7 linked regions of the Homo sapiens genome follow. The protein of the gene in region 1 purifies or fractionates together with the protein of each later gene. This does not show direct contact. Each region holds a gene or a part of one and is shown in the gene's direction. Other genes may lie near its edges. The genes, in order: TRMU, PEX6, MTPAP, WDTC1, IQGAP3, TARS2 and CPS1.

Region 1 (4,660 bases):
CCACGGTGGTGCTGAAGACTGCAAGAGGCCTCAGCCACCCTCGGGGCTCTGTGTTAGAGGCGAGGCCTGGACCCCACAGCACACCCAGCTCTCTCACTCCTGTCATTTTGCCACTTGCCTGAAGTCTCTTTAATGCTTTCTTGGACCTTGAGCTGTTTCTGTTGCCCAGTTAGGATAGGGGAGCTAAGGCTGAGGGCTCCCCTGGAAGGTGAGCACCAATGCCTGTGTGCTATGTGGGTCAGCGATTAGGGGATTTCTGAGAAAGAGGTGATACATGGCCTGTGCCTCTGAAAACAAGAAACAAACAAAAACTTTTCTAAAATCCAATATAATCTCAATAATTAAGTGCTGTGTGCTAGGCGTGTGCCACATCTAGGAACATTAAGATGTCTTCACTGTGACCTGGCTCTGTAGGAGTTTGCGGTCTAGTTGGGAGGACATTATCTTCACAAGAGGTGACAGTGATGCGTGGCACGCAGGAAGTACCAGTGATGCTATCAGTCACTGAACCCAGAGGAGGGAGAAACTTGCAGTGTGGAGTAATCAAGAAGGCTTCACCGGAGAGGAGGGGTTGCAAACAAAGTTGTAGAGAAGGGACTCCAAATGGGGTAACGAGAGCAGCGTGAAGGGGAGAAGAAATGCTGATTGTGTATTTCAGGACCGTTGTAAAGTTTGGCTGGACTTTTGTTCCTGCAGTGGAAGGAGTGTAGGGCTCATCCTCTGGTGAGCCCTGACTGTGATGAATGTCGGGCAGTTGTCGAAGGCGTCTGACACAGCAGGCCATGTGCGCGGGACAGGCTGCCCCTGCCTGAGTGGGCTTTAGGGGCAGAAGAGCCTTGGGTTGAGTCCTGACTGTAGCTTATTATATGACCTTGGGCAATTTACTTGACTTTGTTTTTTTAATTGAAAAAAATTCTCTTTTTTTCCTGCCAACAAAGACCCAGAAGAGATACTTGACTTTTCTAAGCCCCAATTTTCTCATCTTTAAAATGAGGATAACACTGATGCCTCACAGGGTTATGAAAGAATTGAGATTAGGTTCTAGTATGTATGCCTGGTATATTAGTAAGCAGTCAATAAACATAGCTGTTTTTCTTTTCTATTTTTTTTTGAGACAGAGCCTCGCTCTGTTGCCCAGGCTGGAGTGCAGTGGCGCAATCTTGGCTCACTGCAACATCTGCCTCCCAGGTTCAAGCGATTCTCATGCCTCAGCCTCCCAAGTAGCTGGGATTATAGGCATGCACCACCACGCCCGGATAATTTTTGTATTTTTAGTAGAGACAGGGTTTCGCCATGTTGGCCGGGCTAGTCTCAGACTCCTGACCTCAGAAGATCCACTCGTCTCAGCCTCCCAAAGTGCTGGGATTACAGGCGTGAGCCACCACGCCAGCCTGCTATTTTTATTTTCATTATTAAAAAGATGAGTCTGGGGAGCTAAGCTATGAGGACGCAAAGGCATAAAAATGATATAATGGACTCTGGGGTGAGGGATAAAAGACTACACATCGGGTACAATGTCCACTGCTTGGGTGACGGGTACACCAAAATCTCAGAAGTCACCACTGAAGAACTTATCCATGTGACCAAATACCAGCTGTTGCCCAAAAAACCATTGAAATAACAATAAAACGAAATTTAGAGAGATTAAGTAAATTGACTATGGTCACCTAAATAATCAACGGAAGAGCTTGAATATGAACCCTCTGTGACTCTATGCTATAACATATGGGTGTCGTATATATTAACAACATGGACAAAACTGATGGCTGAATTTTCCTGGGGAAAGTTACCTGTAGAATGCATGATAAATGCATTAAAAACTTATCTGTAGAATGCATGATAAATGCATTAAAAACTTCTGCAGTTTTCTCGGGGACATAAGAAAAAAAAAAGAGTGTGGCGGCCAAATACAGGATAAATCTGGGGGAAGACCAAAGGCAGAGAGTCTCAGGAAGTGCTGTTGCTGGAGATTTGGACTTCATGGGGAGGGAGTGTGGGAGTGGAAGGTGAGGGCTGGCTTGTTGGACCCAGAGGACAAGTCCACCGGGCAGTAGATCTGAGGTGCTTGTTAAACACAGACCTGGACCGAGGTCTGGGGGCGGCCCTGGAATCTGCTTTAATAAGCACTTCAGCTGTGCTGGTGGTGTGGGGGGTTGTCAGGGTCTTTCTTTGAGAAAAGGTGTGATGCGGCTTAGGGACTGATGTGTGTGGGAGACCAGAGAGGAGAGGAGTCAGCAGTAGTTTCAAGATCAAGGCTGGGTGGCTGGGGAAAGCTGGTTTAGGGGATTCCTCATGAGTACTGTAGAGTTTGAGGGGACAACAGGGAATCCAAGTGAGCTTACACTTCACCTGCCAGCACAGCTTTTTCAGAACGTACGAGTGGATGCGATTTTTGAAGTTTAGCTCAGCTGAGGCCAGATAGGAAGAGTGACTTGAATAGTATGGCAAATTAGGAGCGGAGCTGGGATTAAACCCCAGAATTAGGAGCGGAGCTGGGATTAAAACCCAGAATTAGGAGCGGAGCTGGGATTAAACCCCAGAATTAGGAGCGGAGCTGGGATTAAACCCCAGAATTAGGAGCGGAGCTGGGATTAAACCCCAGAATTAGGAGCGGAGCTGGGATTAAACCCCAGAATTAGGAGCGGAGCTGGGATTAAACCCCAGAATTAGGAGCGGAGCTGGGATTAAACCCCAGAATTAGGAGCGGAGCTGGGATTAAAACCCAGCTTTCCAGGCCAGTGCTTGCTGCCGCCTTCTGGCGCTGCTTGATAGGGACTGAGAGAAGGAGGCGGCCGGGTAGAGTCTTTTCCCATCTCTGGGGCTGCCCCCGAGGTCGCCCCTGGCTCCAGCCAGCCTGCCCTCTGCCCTCGCCCAGTACCAGCTGCCCGTGGAGGCATTGGTCTTTCCGCTGAAGACTCACTTCTCTAGTAGGGCTCTCTAGCTCAGAGATTTCTTTTGCATTCTTTCATTCAAGACCCACTGGCCTTCAAGGATCAGAGTCCAGATACGTTTTAGCTGCTGAGTCTTTTAAATCTGTCTCCCTCCCGAGGCACATGAAAGGCTTCTCTTCTTTCCAGTTAGAGAAGAGGCTGGGCTACTCCATTGTTTTTGCTAATGCCAAAACACACGCCTTCCCATCTGCTGTTTACGAAAGGGTTAACAGTGTGTCTTTTCAGAAACTGATTTTAATGTTCAGCCTCTTCAACATTTATTGATGACTGTGATATAGAAAGTTTGTTGGGTCTAGGACACAGACACAGATTGCACCTTAAGTAGTTTATAGTTTAATGAGCTTCCTGGTAACTTTCTAATAATTAAAGCAAAATGGAAAGAGTGTAATAATATCAAGTGTTGTTGCAAATGTGGAAAAACATGAGTTTTTATGAACTTCTAGGGGGACTGAGAAGTAGGAAAACAGTTTGGTGCCTGCTAAAGTGGAAGATATCCAAGGAACCTCTGACCCTGTGCAGATCTGTGATATGTCTGCAAAACACAAACCTCTTGATCAGCACTGGTTTTTTTTTTAACCCTTGTTGATTAATAGAGAGTTTTAGGTTAAATGAAAAAAATCACTTATACCAAAAATACACCCATTTTTAAACTCCCAAAATAGGCATCATAACCCTCTTGAAGTGAATCCTCGAAGACTATGAAATTCTTGGTAAGTTTTGCTGGTATCATGGCATCTTTTTCCCATGTTCAGTCAGTCTGTTAGAGCAGAAGTTCACTGAATTAGGATAGCCTGATCCACTTTAAGCACCCAAGAGTTTGCTAGTTCTCAGAAGTGTGTGTTTGTCACCTGAGGATAGTATTTTTGGTATATTTGCCCAGTGACGCAGCATTCCAGGCTGAGATTGCAGAATGGCTCATGGAGCCCTTGTGTAGGGAAGCCTCTGACTGTGTTTCTCCTCTGTTCTCATCACGGCAGTCATCCTCACGGAAGAAGGCTTCTGTGACAAAGGTGTGGGGGGTTTTCCCCATACAGCAAGCAGTGGACACCGACTGGGTGTCCTCTGATTCAGTTCCGATACCATCTACTTGGAGATAGTGCTGGATCCCAAAGGTTGGGGGTTCAGTCCCCCAGACGGACTCCCCCCACAACAGCAGTCGAAAGTATGGGCCTCTAGAACTTATGACCAACTGGCTTCCAGTTGGGATTCCCATAACTTCCTCTTTGGGTTCAATTATTAATAATTTGCTGGAGTGGTTCACAGAACTCAGAAAAACACATTTACCAGTTTATTATAAAGGATGTTGCAAAGGATACAGATGAAGAGACGGGTTGGGTGAGGTATGGGGAAAGGGTCATGGAGTGTCCACACCCTCCCTGGGGACCACCCTCCAGGAGCCTCCACAAGTGTAGCTGTGCAGAAGCTCTCTGAACCCAGTACTCCTGGGTTTTTATGGAGGCTTCATGACATCGCCATTCCTTCCCCCAGGATATACAGTGGGACTGTGTCTGGGGAGGGTCTTAAGACCCACAGTCAGAAAGGTAGACGCTTGTAATCCTAGCACTTTAGGAGGCTGAGGCAGGAGACTTGCTTGAGGCCTGGAGTTCAGTATCAGCATGGGCAACATGGCAAGACCTCATCTCTATAAAAAAAGAAAAGGTTGCAGTGGGCCAGGTGCGGTGGCTCACGCCTCTAATTCCAGCATTTTG
Region 2 (4,660 bases), on another chromosome or scaffold:
TTACTTCAAGAAGAAAGTTGTAGAACAGATAATAGTTGTTCCATTTCCATGGGTTACTGAGTAAAGACTCACCAGTTCGCCATAACAGACATAAGAGTGACAAAAAAATAAACCTTCATTGTGTAAAAAAAAAAAAGGCCAGGCGCAGTGGCTCATGCCTGTAATCCCAGCACTTTGGGAGGCTGAGCCAGGCAGATCACTTGAGGTCAGGAGTTCGAGACCAGCCTGGCCTACATGGTGAAACCTCATCTCTACTAAAAATACAAAAATCAGCCCAGTATGGTGGTGCACACCAGTAAACCCAACAACTGGGGAGGCTGAAGCAGGAGAATCGCTTGAACCTGGGAGGTGGCAGTTGCAGTGAACCCAGATCACACCACTGCACTCCAACCTGGGTGACAGAGCAAGATTCTGTCTCAAAAAAAGAAAAAAATGAAAGTTGTGTTTAGGGGGACAAATACAGTATAGTGTTTAATTAAGGACCTAGATATATGGTTTAGATGGTGCTGTCCAATATGGAAGCCACCAGCCACTTTGTGGCTTTTTAAATTTTTAAATTTAGTTAAAACTAAATAAAGTAAGCCTGGCTAACATGGCGAAACCCCATCTCTATTTTAAAAAATACAAAAATTAAATCCCAGCACTTTGGGAGGCCAAGGCAGGCAGATCACAAGGTCAGGAGATTGAGACCATCCTGGCTAACACGGTGAAACCCCGTCTCTACTAAAAATACAAAAAAAAAAAAAATTAGGTGTGGTGGCACATGCCTGTCGTCCCAGCTACTCTGGAGGCTGAGGCAGGAGAATCCCTTGAACCCAGGAGGCGGAGCTTGCAGTGAGCCGAGATGGTGCCACTGCACTCCAGCCTGGGTGACAAGCGAGACTCCATCTCAAGAAAAAAATAAAACCCACAAAAATTAGCCAGGCATGGTGGTGCACATGCCTATAGTCCCAGCTACTCAGGAGGCTGAGGCACAAAGAGAATCATTTGAACCCAGGAGGAAGAGGTTGCAATGAGCCGAGACTGTGCCACTGCACTTCATCATGGGCGACAAAGTGAGACTAAGTCTCAAAAAAAAAAAAAAAACTAAATCATGTTTTTTAGTTGCTTTAGCTACATTTCTTTGTTTTTGTTTTGTTTTTAGCCACATTTCAAGTGCTCAATAGCACATGCAGATATAGACTATTCCATTGTAGAGAGTTCTACTGGGCAGTACTAGAGTAACCAGTTAATACTTTGGGATGTCAGGTAGAGATACATGTGAAATACATGTGAAAGGGAGTGGATGTAGGTTTCCTCCTGAATGGAGGAAAAACTACTGGGGTACTCAAGAGTAGAGCTCATTGAACCAACCAATGACTGAACCAACCCGTTCAGCTTTTCCCACAGCCTGAATTCAGTTTCCCCACTAATGACCACTTAATGTTAATCCCTGTGGATGCCTGGTGTCACTAATAGGTCTTGTGGGAATAAATGTCTTTACCATTTCACTGGCTCTGGGCCAAGTTGAAAGTGTCACAGAAAGGTTATCTTTACTGAGAAAATTTTTTGGAGCCAGAGTCGGGATAGGAGGTGATATTCTCTTCCTGGTACCCATTAGAGGGAGAGGTTTTCAGGTCTGCTACCTCAGGCCCCACCTTCCACAAGCCTTGTGGTTATGGGAAAGACAGGATGGAAATAGACATGTTGGCTGCTGAGAGACAGGTTAGAGCCTGCCCCCTTAGGAGAAGGTTATAACGTGGTGGTTATTTCTCTAATAGAGGTACTTGGAAGGCTCCATCGCCCCTGAAGACAAAGGAAGCTGCTCATTGCTGCCTGGGCCTCCATTTGCCAGAGAGTTACACATCGAAATTGTGTCTTCTCCCCACTACAGCACTAATGGAAATTATGACGGTGTTCTTTACCGGCACTTTCAGATACCCAGGTTAGCTACCTAACCTTTTAAGGAGGATAGCTTCTCACCCTCATTACATTCCTCCTATCCCATGCCTTAGAACCAAGTACCCCAGAGGCCCTGGTTAAAAGAAGCCACATTTGCGGCTAGGTGCTGTGGCTCACGTCTGTAATCCCAGCACTTTGGGAGGCCGAGGTGGGCGGATCATGAGGTCAGGAGATTGAGAGCATCCTGGCTAACATGGTGAAACCCCGTCTCTACTAAAAATACAAAAAAAAAATTAGCCGAGTGTGGTGGTGGGCGCCTGTAGTCCCAGCTACTTGGGAGGCTGAGGCAGGAGAATGGCGTGAACCCGGGAGGTGGAGCTTGCAGTGAGCCGAGATCGCACCACTGCACTCTAGCCTGGGCGACAGAGCGAGACTCCGTCTCAAAAAAAAAAAAAAAAAAAAAAAACAAAAAAAACATTTCAGACAGATTGTGGTAGGCGCCTCTTGGTATATCAGGGAGACCACAGAAGAGAAATCTGAACCATGAGGTTAATTTGGACATTCCAAACAGAGACACCTGTGATTAAAGAGGGCTCCAAAAGAGCCAGGATCCTGCTCTGCCACTCATCTGTCTCTGATCCCCCTTTCTAGTCTCTCCACCATTTCCCCTAGCTCATCCTAAGACTGACTTGTTCCTTGGAGAACTGCGTGGGATCTCTGGGCGGGCAGTAGACTCAAGAAGTAGTCTGCATGTCGGGGGTGGACATGTGGTAATGAACACATGCTCATTACTCCCATTGTGACCTGACCAGGGCCACTGCTGTGTTGCAGGGTAGTCCAGGAAGGGGATGTTCTATGTGTGCCAACAATTGGGCAAGTAGAGATCCTGGAAGGAAGTCCAGAGAAACTGCCCAGGTATGCAGCTGCCTTCTGTCCTACAGCTGGGATTTGTAACCTGGGTGCATGAGTTCTACAATCCCCTCCCTGCAAATCATGTGTAATTTGTGCCCAAGAGGATTTCGTTGTCATGTATTTTGTGTGTGCGTGTGTGTGTGTAACAGGTTCTTGCTCTGTTACCCAGGCTGGAGTTTAGTGGTGCAAACACAGCTCACTGCAGCCTCTACCTCCATGGCTCAAGTGATCCTCCCACCTCAGCACTGCCTCTGCCCCAGTAGCTGGGACTACAGGTTCGCATCACCACGCCCAGCTATTGGTTTTTGTATTTTTAGTAGAGATAGGGTTTCGCCATGTTGACCAGGCTGGGCTCGAACTCTTGAGCTCAAGTGATCTGCCTGCCTTGGCCTCCCAAAGTGCTGAGATTACAGGTGTGCACCACTCACCCCCAGCCTGTGTACATTTTTTTGGAGAGAAAATTCACCTGTCCTTCAGTTCCCAAACAAGTGTATGACTGAAGAAAGGTTAAGAACCAGTCAGGCATGGTAGTGCATACTTATAATCCCAGCTACTCAGGAGGCTGGGCAATATAGCTAGACACTGTCTCAAAAAACAAGCAAACTAAAAGAACCACTCCCTGCTGGCTTTGGGAGGTGTTTATCCTCAAACTGACTGGTGGCCCTATGTAAAGCAAAGCACTAAGAAGAGTTTAGGCCAGGTGTGGTGGCTCACGACTGTAATCCCAGCACTTTGGGAGGCTGAGGCAGGCAGATCACTTGAGGTCAGGAATTCAAGACCAGCCTGGCCAATATGGTGAAACCCTGTCTCTACTAAAAATACAAAAATTAGCCGGGTGTGATGGTGGGCATCTGTAATCCCAGCTACTCAGGAGGCTGAGGCGGGAGAATCACTTGGACCTGGGAGGCAGAGGTTGCAGTGAGCCCAGATCGCATCACTGCTCTCCAGCCTGGGTGACACAGCAAGACTCCATCTCAAAAAATAAATAAATAGGTAAAATTTAAATTCTTTTCTTTTTAAAGAAGAGTTTAATGGCCTAGACCAAGACGGGATTCCTTCCTTTCCGTTCTTAGCCTTCGTGTTATTTGGACCAAGACTTGGGCCATACCATCCATATCTCAACGTAAGGATATACAGGCTCTGATTTCTGCCTTAACTACGGAGTGTGCACAAACTACTTCTCAATCCTATCTCTGAAAACAGGAGAGGGATTTCTCTTTTTTTTTTTTTTTTTTTGAGACAGAGTCTTGCTTTGTTGCCCAGGCTGGAGTGCAGTGGCGCAATCTTGGCTCACTGCAAGCTCCGCCTCCCGGGTTCATGCCATTCTCCTGCCTCAGCCTCCCAAGTAGCTGGGACTACAGGTGCCCACCACCACGCCCGGCTAATTTTTTGTATTTTTAGTAGAGATTGGGTTTCACCGTGTTAACCAGGATGGTCTCGATCTCCTGACCTTGTGATCCGCCCGCCTCGGCCTCCCAAAGTGCTGGGATTACAGGCGTGAGCCACCGCACCCAGCCAGGGATTTCTATTGTTTTTGAGAGGGCTACCCTGTCCTATCAACAGAGAATGAGAAATAGAGCATAACCGAGCCAAGAACCCAAAATAAGGAATCCAGCTTTTCTCCTCTTGTTGACTCTGACCACAGAGGTTCCATGTAAAATGGTGAGGCAAAGAATTGAGACACTGCTTTAGCCTTATGTGTAGGGAGGAAAATGTATAGCTCTGTATCCCAGCATTCCCTGTATTCTGGACTCATTTCCTGCAGCAGTTTACTAGAAGGAGAGCACAGCTGATAGATGCACTAACTCATACATAAGAGCCTTCATGTCCAAGGTCTGTGGCATAGCCAGCCTGGGTCCTCTGCCAG
Region 3 (4,660 bases), on another chromosome or scaffold:
CAGACACACGACACCACGCCTGGCTAATTTGGGCAGGCTGGTCTCAAACTCCTGGCCTCAGGTGATCCGCCCACCTCCGTCTCCCAAAGTGCTGGGATTACAGGTGTGAGCCACCGCGTCTGGCCTTGTTAAGGGTATTGATATCAGACTTGGTGGTTTATGATCTCTAGAGTCTACCATTCCAGACTTTTTAAAGAAACACCTTAAACTACTTAACTGGAAGTTAAAATCTTGGGGGAAAAAAATTAGTTGTTAACATTCAGGTTTGTGCTTTAATACTCTCTTAGAACTTGAATAATTTTTTTCTCTCTATACTTAGTTCATTTGTTGACCTTCCCATTGTGGCTAGTGGGTTATTAATATTTAATTCTTCACTGTCACAATTCTTGTCTTGATTCCCTGTGATTGTAAAACTCCTAGCCTCTTTCTTTCCTTAGTAAAATTATCAGGGAGCTCTTCATGGGCAGTAACGAGGTTTTAAATTCTTTGATTTCCCTGATACAGAGCGCATGATAGTTGGTAACTCACTGTTAATTGTTTGAGCCAGATCAAGACCCTTGAGAAAGAAAAATGCCTTAATAGCTTATGTCAAAACACCGAATTTCCAAACTCATTGTCTCATTACACTCAGGCTTGTAATAATTTCTTTTAGGCTTTGGAATGTTACAATTTGCACAATTTTGTGTGTGCATATTTGTACAAGTATTAAATAAGTGATTTTAGTTTCCTGGTTTTTTTTTTTTTTTTTGTGGAACTCCGTTTTCAGCACTTTGCATCAAGCATAGTAAATCAAAACAGAGAAAGTGGGCAGTTTTAATAGTAGTCATGGGAGAGTAGTCAAACGAACACTGAAAGTGCAGTAATTCCACCTCATCCATGTTTTCACTGTCCACAGTTTCGGTTCCTCACAGTCAACTGTGGTCCACAAATAGGTGAGCACAGTACAATATGATATTTTGAGAGAGAGAGAGACCACATTCATATAACTTTTATTACAGTATATTAGAATTGTTCTATTTCATTATTAGTTGTTGTTAATCTCTGTCTCTTTTTTTTGAGACAGAGTCTCGCTCTGTTGCCCAGGATGGAGTGCAGTGGTGCAATCTCAGCTCACTGCAACGTCTGCCACCTGGTTTCAAGTGATTCTCCTGTTTCAGCCTCCCAAGTAGCTGGGACTACAGGCGCGCGCCACCATGCCTGGCTAATTTTTGTATTTTTAGTACAGATGAGGTTTCACCATGGTCAGGCTGATCTCGAACTCCTGGCCTCAGGTGATCCACCCACCTCAGCCTCCCAAAGTTCTGGTATTACAGGCATGAGCCACCAAGCCCGGCCCGTTGTTATTAATCTCTTACTGTGCCTAATTTATAAATTAAGCCTTATCATAGCAATGTATGTGTAGGATAAAACATTGTATATATAGGGCTTGGTAATATCTGAGGTTTTAAGCATTTACAGGCATCTTGGATCATAACCCCTGTGGGTAATGGGGAGACTACTGTAGTATAGTTTAACCCTTATAAAGGAAGAGAAAAAATAGATTAGGTGAAGTTGGTTTTAGTCATATATGAAGTCTTTAAACACCTTATCAAAATATTTTTAAAATTTTGTGTGTGTGCGTGTGGTGGAAATGTTTTTGTCTCGTTCATAGGCTTTGAAGACAAGATTCCCAAAAGGAGATTCTCTGAGATGCAAAATGAAAGACGAGAACAGGCACAGCGGACTGTTTTAATACATTGCCCAGAGAAAATCAGTGAAAACAAGTTTCTTAAATATTTATCCCAATTTGGACCTATTAATAATCATTTCTTCTATGAAAGCTTTGTAAGTATTTGAAAAACAATCTAACTTAACGTTTATGCTTTTCAAGGGTGGAGGTCTCCATTAGTTGTTTTTTGCTGTTGCTTTTTGCAATATGGTAGGTAGGTTCTCTTTGATATACTGCATCTTCTTTATCTAGATTTCTTTAATGAGTTTTGTTTTTGATATGGGATTCTTATAGCGGTATTTTAGGATTATAAGTCATTTATGACTGATTTCATTATTTGAATGCTTAATTTTATTTTTTAAGAGACGGGGTCCAACTATGTGGCCTATGCTGGAGTGCAGTGGCTGTTGGCAGGTACGATCATATTGCACTACAGCCTCGACTCCTAGGCTCGGGTGATCCTTCTGCCTCTGGAGTAGCTGGGACTACAGTCCTGCACCACCACACCCAGCTTGAATACTTTAGATAGTCTCTTTAACTTGCGGATGAAGGCCAGTGGGAGGGGATCTTTGTTTTGCCTTTGGATTTTTCTGCTTCATCATTCTTTTCAGTCTTTTCAGCTTCTCTTAACTAACATTGTTTTAAGGTTCCGTTTCTTTTTTTTTGACATGGAGTCTCACTCTGTTGCCCAGGCTGGAGTGCAGTGGCATGATCTTGGGTCATTGCAACCTCCGTCTCTTGGGTTCAAGCGATTCTCCTGCCTCAGCCTTCCAAGTAGCTGGACTTACAGACACCTGCCACCACGCCTGGCTAATTTTTGTATTTTTAGTAGAGGCGAGGTTTCACCATGTTGGCCAGGCTGGTCTTGAACTCTTGACCTCAGGTGATCTGCCCACCTCCATGTCCCAAAGTGCTGGGATTACAAGCGTGAGCCACTGCGCCCGGCCCAGTGTTCCTTTTCTTCATCTACTTAAATTGAATAAAATTAATGCTATGTTAGAATCATATCATTTGTAAATTTTAAAGACTTGATATTTTGTAGCATTATGATAATTGTTTTAATATATGAGCTAAAATAGTATGTTAGATATATCGTGAAATGTGTTCTGTTTTTTCTTATGTTTTTGGTATAGGGTCTCTATGCTGTCGTAGAATTTTGCCAAAAGGAAAGCATAGGTTCACTGCAGAATGGGACTCATACTCCAAGCACGGCCATGGAGACTGCAATTCCATTCAGATCACGTTTCTTCAATCTGAAGTTGAAAAACCAGACTTCTGAACGGTCACGCGTACGGTCAAGTAATCAGTTGCCACGTTCAAACAAGCAGCTTTTTGAATTACTTTGTTATGCAGAAAGTGTAAGTTTTTAGGTGTACCTCAACTTTTAGAACTATGTATTTTTTTATGAACAATAAAGATTCCTGTAAAATGTTCAAGCTACATTATTGTTTAATGGGTATAGATCTTCAGTTTTACAAGGTGAAAAGAGTTACGGAGATGAATCGTGGTGGTGGATGCATAATGAGATGAAGGAAAGTTTTTTTCTATTTCTAGCTTTCTAAGAATGTCGTCATGCTCAACACATTGAGTAGATGTTGAGTTTTGACATTTGAGATGGTATTGATGACTGGCATATGGTCTTGAGATTGTATATGGTTCCTAATGTCTTTTTCTTTCCCCTCCTAATGTCTTAACGTAGTGAATTGTAGATTCACTGTAGATTTCCTCATGTCAAGTCATTCTTGCATTCACAGAATAAACCCTACTTAGTCAAGGTGTATTTACAAAAATGCATTATTACATTTGTCGTGCTAATATTTTTATTACAATTTTAATATCTCTATAAATAAATGGGATTGCTTTTAAAAATTCAAACTACAGGATATGTTGAATGAAAAGTGATAGTAATCCTTGTCTGCTCCTTCCCCGCCATGCCCCATTTGTACTTACAGGTAACCACATTCTTCTGAAGTTTTCGGCCTTTTGAACAGTTTAGGTTTTCTTTCTCTTTCCAGCATAATGACATAAAATTGTACATGGTTTTCTGTCAATTTTAAAATGTCTTCTTTCTGATTCTCTCTCTCTTTTTTTTTTTTTTTTTTTGAGATGGAGTCTCGCTCTTGCCCAGGCTGGAGTGCAGTGGCATGATCTTGGCTTACTGCAACTGCTCCCCGATTCAAGCAATTCTCATGCCTCAGCTGCCCAAGTAGCTGGGACTACAGGTGTGCACCACCACACCCAGCTAACTTTTGTATTTTTAGTAGTGACGGAGTTTCGCCACTTTGGCCAGGCTGGTCTCGAACTCCTGACCTCAGGTGATGTGCCCACTTCGGCCTCCCAAACTGCTGGGATTATAGGTGTGAGCCACTACGCCCGGCCCAAGATTCTGTCTCTTCTGTGTTCAAATATTGTTTGTATTTGTCTTGGTGTTTTTTTGTTTGTTTGTTTTTGTTTTTGTTTTGAGACGGACTCTTGCTCTGTCGCCCAGGCTGGAGTGCAGTGGCGTGATCTCAGCTCACTTCAAGCTCCACCTCCTGGGTTCACGCCATTCTCTTGCCTCAGCCTCTCAAGTAGCTGGGACTACAGGCGCCCACCACCATGCCCGGCTAATTTTTTGTATTTTTATTAGAGACGGGGTTTCACTGAGTTAGCCAGGATGGTCTCGATCTCCTGACCTTGTGATCCGCCCGCCTTGGCCTCCCAAAGTGCTGGGATTATAGGCGTGAGCCACTGCACCTGGCCTGTCTTGGTGTTTCTTACTCAGACTTGCCAGACCTTGCTAGTCTTTCCAAAGAATCAACTCATGGCTTTATTTATCAAAATATTATTTTCAAGGTTTAATTTTCTAATAAGAAAATTTTTGCTTCTAATCTATTTCCTTTACTTTTATTGTTATTATTATTATTTTGAGACAGAGTTTTGCTCTTGTTGCCCAGGCTGGAGTGCAATGGC
Region 4 (4,660 bases), on another chromosome or scaffold:
ACCTGCTGAGAAGCCTGCCCTTTACTCTGGACCGTGATCCTCCAAAAATAGCAGATCTCTGAAATAACCCCACCTATGCAGTAAGAAAGAGGATGACAATAGAGCAGAGATCTCTTCAAGAGCTTTGCATCACTGCCCTTTTTGCTTCCCTCTGAAAAGACAGGTTCCTTCCATGGCTTGGCTCTTGAGAACCTGAAATAGTTCCCCTCTCCTTTGTATCCTGGCCCAGTCTTCTCATTGATTTCTTCCTGGGGCCTACAGTTGATTTAGGCACCTCCTCACTCCATTCCCACCCCCAGCCCCAGCCCTAGCCCCAGCCCCAACCCTAGCCCCAGCCCCAGCCCTAGCCCCAGCCCCAGCCCCAGCTGAGTAATGCCACGGTGAAGTTGTGTCCCTCGCCAGCCAGCAGAGGGCGCACGGGCTTTTCTTTATGTCAGAACTTGCTTTCTGGGAATGGATCTTACTCTGGGAGAACAGTCCCACGATGGAACCATCAGACCCCGTGATGGAAGCTAGAGGGCTGCCAGGAAGAAATGGGTCCTCTTCCTGAGTTGTTGCTGTCACTTTCTCACTATCTCCTGCCAGAAGTCCAGAATGGCAAGATGTCCACCAACGGTGTGTCCAACGGTGTGTCCAATGGCCTGCACCTTCATAGCAATGGCTTCCGGCTGCCGGAGAGTAGGGGACATGTCAGGTGAGGCCAGCTGGCTTGTCCAGCCCTCCAAGCCCCAGTTACACTATATGGACTGGAGGGAGGGACATAACCTGTAAATCTTCCTCCTGACCCACACCCACTCATGCATCCCAGAGAGTGAGGACCAAGGCAAAGAGCCTTCTTGGAGGGTGCCTAGTGTTTCCAGTGCCCCTCTGCCTGGCAGAACACTAGTCATGGTCAGACTGTAGCTCTAGCCTGTTGGTACCAGTAACTGGGGTCAGGACTCAGGAGCTAGCTGCCTCTTAGCACTGAGCTGTCTCCAAAAAGGGGCTGCATACAAATGGGCCTCCGCATTATATTATTCCCCATCCTATAGCATATCCTTGCCTCTTTTCTCTGCCAGCCTCTGTGCTGGGCTTTGGATACAGAGGCGCTCAAATTCCCTAGCCTTGAGAGAAATAGAGTTCTCTAGACAGCGATCCACAGGAGGGACTCGGGTGGTCATAAGGTTCAGCTCAGCATGGAGGCAGGTGGTATCAGCTACTACCATGCCCAGGAGTTGAAGTACAGCTTCATTTCTGCCCTTCTTTTCACTGGCTGAGAGTATTTGGAATGGTATTTGGAATGAAATTCCAAATGGTATTCCCTATCACAGTAATAGGTAATATCCCAGACCAGGGTAGTGGTCCCCTCTTCCAGATAGCAGTCAGATCCCAGGGGCCAAGAAAATCTGGGTGGCCCTCAGGCCATGTTACAGACTCCCTGAGGGGCTGCTCTGACCTTCTTTGACTGTTCTGACTTGGCTCTATTTCCCCTGCAGCCCCCAAGTAGAGCTACCACCATACCTGGAGCGTGTGAAACAGCAAGCCAATGAGGCTTTTGCCTGCCAGCAGTGGACCCAAGCCATTCAGCTTTACAGCAAGGCTGTGCAGAGGGCCCCTCACAATGCCATGCTTTATGGAAACCGAGCAGCAGCCTACATGAAGCGCAAGTGGTGAGTGGCCACTGCAGAGGGGATCTGGGTCAGGATGAGGGAGAAAGCAGCTGGACCAAAAGGCAGGGGCCTGATGGAGCCAAGTTGCCAAGGCATCCAGGGAAAGTGGCAAGAACATATTGCTGCCTCTTAGGGCTTCTTGGCCTCTCCTCCCCACCTCCAGGCTAATGGTGGGCAGGCACCTGACCCATTAATCAGGAAGTCTCAAGCACTAAGGAAGCTCACAGTTACGTGGAACATGTTCAAAACTAGTTTCTACATGGCATATTATTATAAAGTGCTGTGGCCCCTGGGGAAGTATGAGTTGAGGACTGTTAGTCCCAACTGTTGGAGAATTGGACTTTGAAGAGCAGTGGAATCTTGCTAAGTGGAAATGAGGGGTTTGGTGAATTCAGTTGGTATGTGTCTAAAATATTCTGCAGTCCCTTGCCCCTCTAAGGCTTGCTTTCTGTGTTCTTAGACCCTTTGGACTGAGTACAAACCATATCCCAGAGATCCAAAGCTGGCTATGGGTCACGCTAGGGTATGGTGGCTGGTAATAAAGAAGTAGACCATATCTGAAAGAACTCCTCATCTTTGGAGACCATCAGGGCCCCCAGCCCTACTGCCTGCAGCACCAGCAGGCAAGCAGACATGCAGACCCCGCCCCCCCATCCCCCAGCCAGGGCCAGGACTAGAGATGGATAGAGCTGGGCCCACAGCCATTTCTGCTCCGTCTGGCATCCGTCGGCTCTGCCCAGACAGACAGGCCAGCTGGTGTGCCATCGTCTGGCTGCAACTCGGCAGGCCAGAGAGGGAAACTTAAGAAACCCACCCAAGTCAGCAGGATGGTAATGCTAGGTGGGGGTGGGGAAGATGCTGTCCCCCGGCCTTAGCTAAGGCATCAGGAGTTGGCCAAGGGCTCAGGTGGTAGCCAAACCCAGGAGATGACTGTTTTGGATGAATCGTGAGTTGATTCACCTCTCTGTCCAACAAACAGTTGGGTAGAACTCAGTGGTCCTCATCCAGGCTGTAGGCTAAGAGCTCAGCTTCACTCCTGCATTCTTGCTAAGAGAGGTTGGTGATTTCCTAATCCATATGTGCCCTCAGCATGTTCTCTGAGCTCCTACTATGTGCTAGGTACTAGGAACACAAAGTTCTATCACTCTGAGTTCCTGTGCTCCAGAGGAGCCTCTCCAGACAGTGGGTAAAGTGGTGGACATAGTTCAGCATTAAAGAGATAGGAAGCAGTGAGTCTTGTGAATGGTCAGGTAAAGGGCTGTGGGCATCAAGAAAAGTTGGGTCGCTTTAGCTGGGGAGCAGGGAAGCATCAGAAAGACATGGCGTCTGAATGGGCTTTAAGTGTAGGCAGGCTTAGACAGGAGATGAAGGAGAGGAGGGGCCTGTGGGGGAAGGACATTCCAGGGAGATGAAATGGTGTGAACAAAGGCATGGGGGTGGGGGACTGACTGAAGAGCTTGTTTGCAGAACAGCAAATCCATTTGGCTGGAGCAGAGGGTTCGGAAAGGGACTGGCAGGAGATGAGTCTGTGAGGTAGCCTGGGGCCGGCCTAGGGAGAGCTTGGAATGCAGAGCGGTGACGTTGGCCTCGATTCAGTGCATGATGGGCAGCTACTGGAGAGTTCTGAGCAGGAGAGGGATGTGCCGAGGGCTGTCCTTTCAGGGAGATTGATCTGGCAGTGAGTCTAGGAAGGGTGAGCCCTGGGGCCAGCCTGCTCTCTACCCCCATCCCCACATGCCTGCCAGTGACCCCTAGAATGTCACATTCTGTCCTGGGCCAGTCTCCCCAGGGCTGCCATCTGCTCCTGGATGCAGTGGGAGCTGTCACCCTCTGGCTCCTGGCTGGTCTCTGGTCTGGCTCTCCCCAGGAGCTCAGAGGGGCACCTTGCAGGCAGTAATTGGGTTTCCAAACAGTGCCTGCTCCTTCGTCAGAGCCACTCATCCTGACGCAGGCCACGCCATTGAAGCAGCTCTGTTTCCTGCCTGCCCCCACATGGGCTGAGCTGCTGGTTCCTGGTCTGAGCGTGGCTGTTCCGAGGACTGGGTGCTCCCTCTGAGTGCTGCAGAAGGAGGCTCAGGAAGAACCTTCCCATGTCAGGCCTGCCTTAGCCATGCCGGATTGTTGTGAGCTGTGCCCTTGGAGAAGGGGCCATTAACTCTAAGGGGTGCCTCTTACTGCTGCTTGGCACAGTTGGGTCCTAGGCCTACTCCAGCCCAGCTGAAAAAAAAAAATGGCTTCTGAAGAAGCAGTTCCTGTGGCCTGTCTGGCTCTCCAGACAAGAGGCAAGGACAGGTCTGTGGGTGCTGGGGGAGTATGCTTCCTATATTCTGGCACAGGGTGGGAAAAGGAGGGGCTTCTCTGACCTCCTTTCACTTCCTCTTTCCCCGCTTCCCCATCAAAAGCACTCCCACTTCCCTTCATCCATGCTTCAGGAGGTTGGAGAAGTGAGTGGGGACGATTTGGAGCTCCTGGTGTGCACAACCCCCCTTACCATCAGCTTCCAGAGAGCTGACTCTGCCAGACTGTCAGGCCCCATCCTCCAGCCCCAGGAGGTAGAGGCCACAGCTGCTGTGGATCAGTCAGCCAGGACAGGGGGGGGTCTGGCTGAGGGCTTGCTGCCTGCTGGTCAGACCCTGCGTCCCCAGCCTGACACTTCTGGCTTCCCCAGACCACAGAACTGTCCTTGAGGGCCCCCTGCCTTGGATGTGGCTTTGAAGGCCAGCCGGGGGTGATTTGAGAAGGTGGATGGGGGAAGAGAGAAGGAGGGCTTGGGGAGCCTGTGGTGGGCAAGATGCCAGGCCTTCTGCTGCAGAGCTGCGGGTGCCTGGGGTGAGCCAGTGTGCAGTTGCACTCTGTGCCCAGCAGAGGGCAGCCTGACACCAGCTTTTGCCACCCTCAAGACCTCAGGGTTTCCTGGCTTGCTCCTTAACCATACTCTGTCTCCTGATGGGGGAGGCCTGGGCTGAGCCAGGATTCTCTTCGTCCTCAAGTCCCCTTGCCATGAGATCTGT
Region 5 (2,661 bases), on another chromosome or scaffold:
CCAGTGTTCAGGAAAGGAGTGAAGCAACGGTGTTTTTGGTTGTGGTTGTTGTTGTTGCTTTTTTGGGTTTTTGTTTGTTTGTTTTCTTGAGACGGAGCCTTACTCCGTCACCCAGGCTGGAGTGCAATGGCGCAATCTCAGCTCACTGCAACCTCTGCCTCCTGGGTTCAAGCGATTCTCCTGCCTCAGCTTCCTGAGTAGCTGGGATTACAGGCGTGCGCCACCACACCGGCTTTTTGTGTATTTTTAGTAGAGATGGGGTTTCACCATGTTGGTCAGGCTGGTCTTGAACTGCTGACCTTGTGATCCGCCCGCCTCAGCCTCCCAAAATGCTGGGATTTACAGGCATGAGTCACCATGCCCAGCCGAGCAGTAGTTTTTAATCCAAATCTTTTTGCTCTGATGTTTTACCTTTTGAGTAAGAAAAATGATTTTGGCCGGGTGCAGTGGCTCACGCCTGTAATCCCAGCACTTTGGGAGGCCGAGGCGGGCGGATCACGAGGTCAGCAGTTCAAGACCAGCCTGGCCAATATAGTGAAACCCTGTCTCTACTAAAAATACAAAAATTAGCCTGGCGTGGTGGCACCTGCCTGTAATCCCAGCTACTCAGGAGGCTGAAGCAGGAAAATCGCTTGAACCTGGGAGGCGGAGATTGCAGCGATCCGAGATCGCGCCACTGCACTGTAGCCTGGGAGACCGAGTGAGACTCCGTCTCAAAAAAATAAATAAATAAAATAAGAAAAACAATTTCAAGCCCTGGTTCTGCTTGAGTTGACATTTGATCAAGTCACTGTACCTCTCTTGCCTCAGTTTCCTCATTTGTGAAGTGGGATTTCAATGCCCTACTTCAGTGGCCAGTGCCACTGGTGACTGCAGAAGGCCCCATGATGTGAGTGTTTTGTACACCATCTGACTGGACCACATTCAGAAGCCCTTAAACTCCCCTCCCTGCCTCTTCCCTCCTAGGATCTCCTGCAGCTCCAGTATGAGGGTGTGGCTGTCATGAAACTCTTCAACAAGGCCAAAGTCAATGTCAACCTTCTCATCTTCCTCCTCAACAAGAAGTTTTTGCGGAAGTGACAGAGGCAAAGGGTGCTACCCAAGCCCCTCTTACCTCTCTGGATGCTTTCTTTAACACTAACTCACCACTGTGCTTCCCTGCAGACACCTAGAGCTCAGGACTGGGCAAGGCCCAGGGATTCTCACCCCTTCCCCAGCTGGGAGGAGCTTGCCTGCCTGGCCACAGACAGTGTATCTTCTAATTGGCTAAAGTGGGCCTTGCCCAGAGTCCAGCTGTGTGGCTTTTATCATGCATGACAAACCCCTGGCTTTCCTGCCAGATGGTAGGACATGGACCTTGACCTGGGAAAGCCATTACTCTTGTGTCTGCTACTGCCCTCCCACAGTCACCCCAATATTACAAGCACTGCCCCAGCGGCTTGATTTCCCCTCTGCCTTCCTTCTCTCTGCACTCCCACAAAGCCAGGGCCAGGCTCCCCATCCCTACCTCCCACTGCATCAGCAGTGGGTGTTCCTGCCCTTCCTGAGTCTAGGCAGCTCTGCTGCTGTGATCTGCACACCCTCCAACCTGGGCAGGGACTGGGGGGATGCAGTGTGTGTTAGTGCCCATGTGGCATTGTGGCACTGTTGCCCCCCATGGCGGCATGGGCAAGATGACCTTCCATTAGCTTCAAGTCTTGTTCTCTTGTCTGTGGTCTGTTTAATATGTGGGTCACTAGGGTATTTATTCTTTCTCCCATCCTTACACTCTGGATCATTGTGCAGACTTAATCAGGGTTTTAACGCTTTCATTTTTTTTTTTTTTTTTTTTTTTTTGAGCTCAAAGAGAGTTCTCATTTTCCCTATTCAAACTAATACCCATGCCGTGTTTTTTACCTTGGATTTAAAGTCACCTTAGGTTGGGGCAACAGATTCTCACTCATGTTTAAGATCTTGTTATTTCAGCTTCATAAGATCAAAGAGGAGTCTTTCCCTTTTCTCTTTTACCCTCAGGATTCTCATCCCTTACAGCTGACTCTTCCAGGCAATTTCCATAGATCTGCAGTCCTGCCTCTGCCACAGTCTCTCTGTTGTCCCCACATCTACCCAACTTCCTGTACTGTTGCCCTTCTGATGTTAATAAAAGCAGCTGTTACTCCCACATCTGTTGTTAACCCTTATTTCATTTTCTGTAGAGCCGGCCTTTAAGTTCTGGAACACAGCTCCCTGAGAGAACTGGGGAATCCTTCCTGCAGCCTCCCCCAGCCCTCTGCCTGCCTCCGGTGTGGTCCTACTCTGCCTGCCTGAGATCGTAAAAGCTTAATGAGATGTGGCATTTATTCTCTCTTCCTTCCCCCGGGGGACAGAGAGGAGGAAGGAATGCTTAGGTTTCTATTCTGTTTTTATCGGCCACTCTGAAGACTAAAGCTGAGAAGAGAAGCCACTCTAATTTCTACCCCACCCGTTTTACACACAGTTCCTGCAGGTTCTTTTCCTGAGCCTTGGGTGGTGATATCAAAGGTGCTTAAGCCATAACTCCTTAGGTATTGTAGATTCTACACTCTGATCAAAATCTCCTTTCTGAAGGGAAAGCTCCCTCCTTTCCTCCTTGCTTTCAGAAAGTAGGGAGGGAAGTCTGTTGGGGAGGGGACAGTAGAGACA
Region 6 (4,660 bases), on another chromosome or scaffold:
GATAGAGTGAGACCCTGTCTCAAAAAAAAAGAAGCCAAGGGGAAAAAAGGACTGAAAAGTGTCCACTGGATTTAGTAAAAAGGCTGCTGGATTTCAAAGGACCATTTTCAGTAAAGTAGGGCCTGAGGGTGGAGTTAGAAGATGAATAAATGAGGCCTGTGTGGTGGCTCACGCCTGTAATCCCAGCACTTTGGGAGGCCGACGTGGGTGGATCACTTGAGGTCAGGAGTTCGAGACCAGCCTGGCCAACGTGGCGAAACCCCATCTCTACTAAAAATATAAAAATTGGCCGGGTGAGGTGTTAGGACACACCTGTAGTCCCAACTACTCAGTAGCCTGAGGCAGGAGAATCGCTGAACCTGGGAAGTTGCAGTGAGCCAAGATCACACCACTGCACCCTAGCCTGGGCAACAGAGCAAGACTCCGTCCCAAAAAGTAAAAATAAAACAGGCTGGGGGCGGTGGCTCACGCCTATAATCCCAGCACTTTGGGAGGCTGAGGCAGGTGGATCACCTGAGGTCAGGGGTTTGAGACCCTGTCTCTACTAAAAATACAAAAATTAGCCCAGCGTGGTGACAGGCACCTGTAAACCCAGGAGGCGGAGGTTGCAGTGAGCCGAGGTCGCACCACTGCACTCCAGCCTGGGCGACAGAGTGAGGCTCCATCTCAGAAAAATAATAATAAAATGAAAAATAAAATAAATGCTATGATGAGAGGAAGTCTATTTGGAGGGAGAAGTTGTTGTAAAGGGAAGTTCCTGGAGAGGTTTAAGGTAGGATTGAGAAGCCTTCATAGAAGGGATCACCATTGCCATTGTATCCAGGGTGGAAGGAAAGGCTGAAGGTAGATGCAAGGAAGTTTGTAGGCATGGTAACAGGAAGTTGAGGCTCTTCCCATCCCATGGTATCAATTATCTGAATTCTTCATGAGGCAGGATCATTTGCTGAAATGAGAGTGGAGAAGAGGAGAGTTGTCAGTGAGGGGGCTGAAGATATGAAGAAAAGGCTGTGTGCAGTGGCCCCCTCTTGTAATCCCAGCACTTAGGGAGGCTGAGCTGAGATGATCACTTGAATCCAGGAGTTTGATACCAGCCTGGGCAACATAGTAACAGGGCATCATAATAAGACCTCGTCTCTACAAAAAAAAATTTTTTTTTTTTTTTTTTTTTTTTTTTTTTATTGAGACTATGTCTCGCTCTGCTGCCCAGGCTGGAGTGCAGTGGCTCGATCTCGGCTCACTGCAAGCTCCGCCTCCTGGATTCACGCCATTCTCCTGTCTCAGCCTCCCGAGTAGCTGGGACTATAGGCAGGCACCCATCACCATCACCATGCCTGGCTAATTTTTTTCTTTTTTTTTTTTTTTAGTAGATATGGGGTTTCACCGTGTTAGCCAGGATGGTCTCGATCTGCTGACCTCATGATCTGCCCGCCTTGGCCTACCAAAGTGCTGGGATTACAGGCATGAGCCACTGCGCCCGACCGTCTCTACAAAAAATTTAAAACAAATTTTAAAATTAGCTGGATGTGATGGTGGGCACCTGTAGTCCCAGCTACTCAAGAGGCTGAGGTGGGAGGATCACTTGAGCCCAGGATTTTGAGGCTGCATGAGCTATGATCAAGGCACCACACTCCAGCTTGGGTAACAGAACAAAACCCTGTCTCAATAAAATAAATAAATAAAAAGATAGAGAAAGGAAATTACTCAAGAACTGTTATATAGCTAAAATCTTTTTTTTGTTTGTTTTGTTTTATTTATTTATTTTTATATATTTTTTTGAGATCAAATTTTGCTCTGTCGCCCAGGTTGGAGTGCAGTGGCGCAATCTCGGCTCACTGCAACCTCTGCCTGCCAGGTTCAAGCGATTCTCCTGCCCCAGCCTCCCGAGTAGCTGGGATTACAGGCATGTACCACCACGCCCGGCTAATTTTTGTATTTTTAGTAGAGATGGGATTTCACCATGTTGGCCAGGCTGGTCTTGAACTCCCAACCTCAGGTGATCTGCTCGCCTTGGCTTCCCAAAGTGGTGGGATTATTACAGGCATGAGCCATCTTGCCCAGCGTTTTTTTCGTTTTTGTTTTTTTCCCCGAGACAGACTCTTGCTCTGTTGCCAGACTGAAGTGCACTGGCGGATCTTGGCTCACTGCAACCTCCACCTCCCAGGTTCAAGCGATTCTCTTGCCTCAGCCTCCCGAGTATCTGGGACAGGTGTGCACCACCACGCCCAGCTAATTTTTTTTTTTTTTTTTTTGAGGCGGAGTTTTACTCTGTCGCCAGGCTGGAGTGGAGTGGCACAATCTCGGCTCACCACAACCTCCACCTCCTGGGTTCAAGCGATTCTCCTGCCTCAGCCTCCCCAGTAGCTGGGATTACAGGCACCCGCTACCACACCAGCTAATTTTTGTATTCCCTTTTTTAGTAGACGGCATTTCACCGTGTTGGCCAGGCTGGTCTCGAACTCCTGACCTCAGGTGGTCCACCTACCTCGGCCTCCCAAAGTGCTGGGATTACAGGAGTGGGCCATGTGCCTTGCCTGGCTAAAATCTTTTGAGTACTCAAAGTTGCTGTTGACTGTGTTGGGGTCTTTTATTCAGGTAACATGTGTATTCTCATTTTTATGTCCCAAGTGTTTATTCCAGCATATGGTATTTATTTACCTGCTTCACTAAGTAGTTAGTAAATTAAAATATTAACAGTAATGAAAGTGTGTCTTCTGATTTATTTCAGCAATAACAGTAGGCAAATAAAATATCTTTATTACTAAGAAAAAAATTGAGAGAGGTTAAACAATGTGCTTAAGGTTACAGATATAACAGTCATAAAGTGTGTATTATGTTGAATCAGTCTAATAAGTTGCTGGCTCAGATACTGCTATAAAAAGAGAGAGCAAAAAACTGGAACATCCCTGAGGAGAACAGAGCATAGAGCTTATTAGGGCAATCCAAAGGATTGCTGGCAGCAGACAGGGACCAGCTGAATCTCGAAATACTGACTTCCATGGTGGCATCAATCTCTGCATTTGCATCTGTGTGGTTTGTGACATATTGGGCAGCACTGAGCAGTTCTCTTGCAGGGCCAAAGATGTAGGAGGCTAAGGTGCAGAAGAACAATGAATGGTACAAAGGGAACTAGGGAAAATGGTACAGCTTCATGGGATAAGAAACAAAGGTGGGAGGGGCCTGAGGATGGGAGAGAAAAAGAGGAGTTAAAGAACCGGTGGGTTGAAGTGCCATTAATAGGAATAATTGTCATGGCCGGGTGTGGTGGCTCACACCCATAATCCCAGCACTTTGGGAGGCCGAAGTGGGCAGATCACTTGAGATCAGGAGTTTGAGACCAGCCTTGCCAACATGGTGAAACCCCATCCCTACTGAAAAAAAAAAATACACATATGTGTGTGTGTGTGTGTGTGTGTGTGTGTGTGTATATATATGTGTGTGTGTGTGTGTATGTGTGTATATATATGTGTGTGTATATATGTGTGTGTATATATGTGTGTATATATGTGTGTATATATGTGTGTATATATGTGTATATATATGTGTGTGTATATATACACACACACACACACACATATACACACACATACATATATATATGTTAGCTGGGCGTGGTGGCATGTACCTGTAGTCCCAGCTACTCAGGAGGCTGAGGCAGGAGAGTCGCTTGAACCCGGGAGGCGGAGGCTGCAGTGAGCTGAAATCGTGCCACTGCACTCCTGTCAGGGTGACAGAGTGAGACTCTGTCTCAAAAAAAAAAAAAAAAAAGGAATAATTCTCAGAGCTGGCTGACCAAGAGACAGTAATCAGAGTAGGGTGTCTGATGGACAGTTTCAGAGGTACAGCCATTGGGGGAGATGACAGGATAAAGGGTGTAGCCATAGATGGGTGGTGGTGAAGATCTCTGAGATGAGGAGCTCAAGGAATTGAGAGGCCAGGGTGTGGACATCAGGTAATATTATAACACCATTATTAGATGGAGAGAGCTGCTGAGAACTACTGCCAGAGTGAGTTGAGTAGAGTGAACTGGAGGGGTAGCGTATGATAGAGCTAGGTGACATGATGAAGGTAGTAGCCCGGGATGAGGGTAGGTTAAAGGGTGGGATGGCACAGGTAATGGAGGATAGTGGTTCTGGATAGTGCTTCTGGCTTATCTCGTGCCTTCCCATCTGTTTCCTGTAGATTGACGTGCACCTCCACGATGCCCTGGGCCGGCCACATCAGTGTGGGACAATTCAGCTTGACTTCCAACTGCCCCTGAGATTTGACCTCCAGTATAAGGGGTATAAAACCTTGCCCTATCCTCTTTTCCCTTGACAGTGCATGGAATAAGTCCTTCTGCCTTTGGCCCTAAAAACTAAACCCTCCACACCCTCTCCTGCCAGAGCTGAATATTTCTTAAAAACTGGAAGGTGATCTTGGGTACACAATTCGTGATACTTCCACCATTCCATCCACCCCCCCCTTTTTCCTTTCAAGGCAGGCGGGTGCCCTGGAGCGTCCAGTCCTCATTCACCGAGCAGTGCTCGGTTCTGTGGAAAGACTGTTGGGAGTGCTGGCAGAAAGCTGCGGGGGGAAATGGTGAGACCTCTGACCTGGATTTCTGTTCTGGCCCCAAACCGGATAGTTATGCTCCAGATCCTGTCCCCCTTCATATGCCAGC
Region 7 (4,660 bases), on another chromosome or scaffold:
TAGGCCTTTGCTATGACCAACCAAATTCTGGTGGAGAAGTCAGTGACAGGTTGGAAAGAAATAGAATATGAAGTGGTTCGAGATGCTGATGACAATTGTGTCACTGTCTGTAACATGGAAAATGTTGATGCCATGGGTGTTCACACAGGTAGGCAAAGTATCTTCAAGAACTATAGTAATGCTTTCAGTTCATGTCTTTGATGGCCAAGGCAGTCTTTATAAAGTTGTTGCCTTTAAATTACTATTTCTAGTTGACAGACTAGTGATAACATTTTGGACAAGCATAGTATTTTACAGTATTGAAAATGTTCTCACATTTAATTTGATCTTCACACAAACCCTGTGAAGTAAGGCGGATATTACACTGAGTTAATTGAGGAAGAGCCAAAGGTAAGCAATATGGTAGAAATAAGATCCATAAAACTTAGTGTTGAGAAATAAGAAGGGAGGTTGAGACAGTTTAAAGCAGACTGAGCTGGTAATCACCCAGTAAATGAGAAAATAGGCACAATAATAGAAATAAGTTTTTCAGAAAAGTACACTAGTTAGATAAGAGGGCAAAGATGATAACTTAGGATTTAAAAGTGCTAAATTTGGGGTGTGAGCAGAGCTGTCAAAAAAGGGAGTTGAGAATGTGGAGATGGAATTTAAGAAATAAAATAGAAATAAATAAGTTGATACAAAGACACTGGAAACTGTTGGCATAAAAGGGGAAATTGAAGTTGTAGGCATAGACAAAGTATTCAAGGACATAGGTATAGAAAGAGGAGAGAATAGGGTTGAACTTTGAACTCTGGGAAACATTTAGATTTATAGGGCAGGGGAAAGAGGAAGTATTACTGTTGAAGATAGAAGGGGAGAATAAAGAGTTAAGAGGAAAATCAGGTAGTACTGTACCAACTAAGCCAATGCAAGAACTATTTTATAAAAGAGCTTTGTTTTTGGCAGTATCAAATGCTATGCAAGACCAAGACTGATTATTTAATTTGGCTCTTTTGGATGTCCAAGAGAACAATTTCATTGCAAAGTCAGTTCTGTGAGCTCTATTAAAAGGAATTACATGGTATCAAGTGGTAAGCAGAATTGGCAAACTTTCAAGAAGCTCATTCATGTAAAGAATGAGAGAGAAGCTTTGTATGGTTGTCTGGCAATGTTGGGAGAAGACTTCCGGAGGCAGTGAAGATCTGAGCGTGTTTGAAGGCAGAAGGGATGGAGACTAAGATTGCAGATATAAGGGGCTATGATGAGGGAAGTGAAGATGGAAAGGGATGAGATACAGAAAGCCAGCTGATGAGCCAGTCTGAGTGATAATATTCAATGAAAGGAAGAACTTCAGAAATAATTTGAGATGAAGAGCAGGGAAGTTGAAGTCAATCTAGTAAGTAGACGATTGAAGCCTTGATAGCTACTTACTAGATAGATGAACTTGGGAAAGGTTAGAGAGGTTTCTAAAAGTACTGTATCAGAGTAATATGGGCAAAACAGGAATTGGGGGAATACCTGATATCACATATATATCCCAACAAACCCTCAGACTGTTCTATGTCTTGCATCGTGCAAGTAGATGGTTAAGTCGCTGAAGTTGGTTATTTCAATATGCCACCAAGTAATGAGTGCTTCTTGGATATATAGGTGACTCAGTTGTTGTGGCTCCTGCCCAGACACTCTCCAATGCCGAGTTTCAGATGTTGAGACGTACTTCAATCAATGTTGTTCGCCACTTGGGCATTGTGGGTGAATGCAACATTCAGTTTGCCCTTCATCCTACCTCAATGGAATACTGCATCATTGAAGTGAATGCCAGACTGTCCCGAAGCTCTGCTCTGGCCTCAAAAGCCACTGGGTAAGACCAGAATAATTGACCATGGGTTTGCAGATTCTTTTCAGATAGAAATGAAAAATTGACAGATAGTGGAAGACTGTACTGCATTTACAAACTATGTTCCCTTTTTCTGTATGTTAGCTCCAAATCATTTATAGCACCCTGAGGACATGATTATTAATGAGCTTGTTGCCAGATTGAGGTAAATTATATTGCTAGCTGGCTTTGTTTGCAGGCTAATCTAAACGAATCAAAATCTAGGTGGCTAAAGCAGGCTGTGAAAAATCTGCTTCCTAATTGCACTTTGCAGATGTTGTTAAAAGTGCAGATTAATCCTTAATTTTAGTCTTCAGCTGTTTTCTTCAGGTGTATAGCCCTATAGCAAATAGTTGACAGAAAATATAGCTCACTTGACTCAAGCATGCAATACACATTACTTTTATTTTATCAAAACTCCACAAGACTGAACAGTGCGGAATTTTTTCACAAGTAACTGTTACAACCAAACAAATACATCTGCTGTCTATGTAACAGCCACTAGCAGGCATGATTGGAGGGAAAGGTAATCAAAACCTTTGGTTTCTAATAATATATTTAGCACCTTACACTTAAATTATGGCATTTAAATGAACACAATATTTACTTCTTTATATTTTTTTTACGTAGTTCCACAGCACTGCGTGGAGTGGTGAAAGGCATGTTGCCCTGTACAGGAGTCACAATTCTGCATTCTCACTTGGTTCTTCTGTTGACCGTGTGATTTTGAGCACATCACTCATTGTCTTTATCAGTTTCCTCATTTGTTAGGTGGAAGTTGTACTAAAGAACTCATTTTTAATTCTATAGTTCTATGAATTATTTTCTCAAACAGAATAACCCAAACTGACATTCTGGATGAAGATAGTCAAGTTCTCAAAGTGTTAGTTTTGTAAGGAGCCCAAAGTTCAAAGATAATTTGGAGACAGAGCAAGGACCCAAACTTGAAATGCCTACATTTTCTGACCATTATGTACTCTCTTGTACTAGCTAACTCCACTGTATTCTTAGGTACAGATATGTATATGTACAGATATGTATATATTTTCTCAAAAAATATTTTGCAGATTCTCATCTTAGTGGAGGTTAAATACAAATAAAGGTTAAACTTTATTTATCAATAAAGCTATCGATTTTGGGTTGAAGAGGTGAAGGTTGAGCGTTGTAGCAATGCATGTAGTGCACAGAGAGTAAATTCTCCTGTGACCTGTGCCTCTATACTTTGTATCATGACTCCTATTATTCCGCAAGTGGCTACTAAATATTGATGCAGAACAGAGAATCAAGTGTCTTATACCCTGAAGTAGAATAATACCAGAAATTTTAAGAAAGACCAATTTATGTTTTGGTCTGTTTTCAATAATTGCTCGAAGAAAAAAAAATAAATTTGTCTTCTTTTTATAGCTACCCATTGGCATTCATTGCTGCAAAGATTGCCCTAGGAATCCCACTTCCAGAAATTAAGAACGTCGTATCCGGGAAGACATCAGCCTGTTTTGAACCTAGCCTGGATTACATGGTCACCAAGATTCCCCGCTGGGATCTTGACCGTTTTCATGGAACATCTAGCCGAATTGGTAGCTCTATGAAAAGTGTAGGAGAGGTGAGTCCTTGGTTTATTACGCTTTTCTTCTTGTTCTCAGTTATTTTGTTAAATTTGTGACACCATTGACAGTGTTAAAGTTGCCTGGATACCATCAACACATGGACAGTGTTAAAGGTGCAATTGACAGTGTTAAAGTTGCCTGAATATTAGCATACTAATATGCTAACAGTCTCTATGTGATTGTTTACATATTACATATGTTACATGGCCATTTTGCTGGATTTGAAGGTCTTCCTATTCAAAAGGTGAGGCCATATATCTGGCTATATAGTATAGATACACATATGAAAACACATTCATATACATATAACTGAGTTGTAATATATTTTATAACCAAATCAAGAAAGTAATATAGAATATAATATATCAAAAAGACCACTGAACTGAGCTTAAGAATTCAACTTTAGTCCATTCATGCAAATTGTGGCTCTAACTTCCTGAGACCTCATTCCCCACATCTATAAAAGAAGAGGCTGGACTAGTTCATCTCTCAGGATCCTTCCAGCTCTAAAATTCTAAATTGATATGAGCATAGTAGATTATTAAGCCCTCTTTAATTATACTAAAAAGTTCTAAGCTTTTAACATCTTTAGAAGATTTTTTAGAATGTGCTGTTATACTATTTGAAATTAAAGTTAGCCTTTGATTATTGCATCTTCAAAGATGCAGTGTTCTTCTGTGTGAGAGGAAAGAAAGGAATTCATATCTCTGCTGAGATTCACTCCCTTGCCTCCTTCCACCAAGTCCTAATCATTTTCTGCATCCAGAAGGTTTGGGATAGTGGAGAAAACATGAAACTTGGAACCAGCTGGACTTGGATATTACTCTTGGCATTGCCACTTATTAGCTACAGACTCTCAGGCAAGACTGAGTTTCAGGATCCACACCTATAAAATAGAAATAATAATACCTACCTTGCAGGATTCTTATAATACCCCCTCTTAATAAATGTAATCCATCATTATTGTTATTATTAAATTAGTATTCATAAATGTTGCATGGGGTAGATGAGTGCTGAAGTATGAACAAATCTCAGTCTTTCTCTATCATTTGTCTATCTACCATTTATCTTAGTTTATCTGTATCTCATCTCTATTTCTGTTGTGGCCAGTGTGGGAGCTTTTAGTCTATGTATCTAAGTTGATTAGAGTACAGAGCAAAAGGCTGTTTATGACATATTTTTCCATATTGTTCTT

What was found.
Region 2: the proteins of TRMU (region 1) and PEX6 purify together in Homo sapiens (affinity purification with mass spectrometry; one large-scale study listed by BioGRID and IntAct). This does not show direct contact.
Region 3: the proteins of TRMU (region 1) and MTPAP purify together in Homo sapiens (affinity purification with mass spectrometry; one large-scale study listed by BioGRID and IntAct). This does not show direct contact.
Region 4: the proteins of TRMU (region 1) and WDTC1 purify together in Homo sapiens (affinity purification with mass spectrometry; one large-scale study listed by BioGRID and IntAct). This does not show direct contact.
Region 5: the proteins of TRMU (region 1) and IQGAP3 purify together in Homo sapiens (affinity purification with mass spectrometry; one large-scale study listed by BioGRID and IntAct). This does not show direct contact.
Region 6: the proteins of TRMU (region 1) and TARS2 purify together in Homo sapiens (affinity purification with mass spectrometry; one large-scale study listed by BioGRID and IntAct). This does not show direct contact.
Region 7: the proteins of TRMU (region 1) and CPS1 purify together in Homo sapiens (affinity purification with mass spectrometry; one large-scale study listed by BioGRID and IntAct). This does not show direct contact.

Annotation. Positions count from the first base shown.
Region 1 is NC_000022.11:46,338,057-46,342,716, forward strand, and holds part of TRMU (mitochondrial tRNA-specific 2-thiouridylase 1), read left to right. Parts: intron 1-4,660. UniProt on the Homo sapiens protein: Catalyzes the 2-thiolation of uridine at the wobble position (U34) of mitochondrial tRNA(Lys), tRNA(Glu) and tRNA(Gln).
Region 2 is NC_000006.12:42,972,139-42,976,798, reverse strand, and holds part of PEX6 (peroxisome biogenesis factor 6), read left to right. Parts: intron 1-1,760; coding exon 1,761-1,924; intron 1,925-2,712; coding exon 2,713-2,796; intron 2,797-4,660. UniProt on the Homo sapiens protein: Component of the PEX1-PEX6 AAA ATPase complex, a protein dislocase complex that mediates the ATP-dependent extraction of the PEX5 receptor from peroxisomal membranes, an essential step for PEX5 recycling.
Region 3 is NC_000010.11:30,338,632-30,343,291, reverse strand, and holds part of MTPAP (poly(A) RNA polymerase, mitochondrial precursor), read left to right. Parts: intron 1-1,651; coding exon 1,652-1,824; intron 1,825-2,841; coding exon 2,842-3,066; intron 3,067-4,660. UniProt on the Homo sapiens protein: Polymerase that creates the 3' poly(A) tail of mitochondrial transcripts. Can use all four nucleotides, but has higher activity with ATP and UTP (in vitro). Plays a role in replication-dependent histone mRNA degradation.
Region 4 is NC_000001.11:27,296,463-27,301,122, forward strand, and holds part of WDTC1 (WD and tetratricopeptide repeats protein 1), read left to right. Parts: intron 1-585; coding exon 586-694; intron 695-1,475; coding exon 1,476-1,649; intron 1,650-4,660. UniProt on the Homo sapiens protein: May function as a substrate receptor for CUL4-DDB1 E3 ubiquitin-protein ligase complex.
Region 5 is NC_000001.11:156,524,905-156,527,565, reverse strand, and holds the end of IQGAP3 (ras GTPase-activating-like protein IQGAP3), read left to right. Parts: intron 1-966; coding exon 967-1,080; 3' UTR 1,081-2,161; downstream 2,162-2,661.
Region 6 is NC_000001.11:150,500,156-150,504,815, forward strand, and holds part of TARS2 (threonine--tRNA ligase, mitochondrial), read left to right. Parts: intron 1-4,179; coding exon 4,180-4,280; intron 4,281-4,476; coding exon 4,477-4,578; intron 4,579-4,660. UniProt on the Homo sapiens protein: Catalyzes the attachment of threonine to tRNA(Thr) in a two-step reaction: threonine is first activated by ATP to form Thr-AMP and then transferred to the acceptor end of tRNA(Thr). Also edits incorrectly charged tRNA(Thr) via its editing domain.
Region 7 is NC_000002.12:210,605,099-210,609,758, forward strand, and holds part of CPS1 (carbamoyl-phosphate synthase [ammonia], mitochondrial isoform b precursor), read left to right. Parts: intron 1-3; coding exon 4-148; intron 149-1,632; coding exon 1,633-1,843; intron 1,844-3,262; coding exon 3,263-3,461; intron 3,462-4,660. UniProt on the Homo sapiens protein: Involved in the urea cycle of ureotelic animals where the enzyme plays an important role in removing excess ammonia from the cell.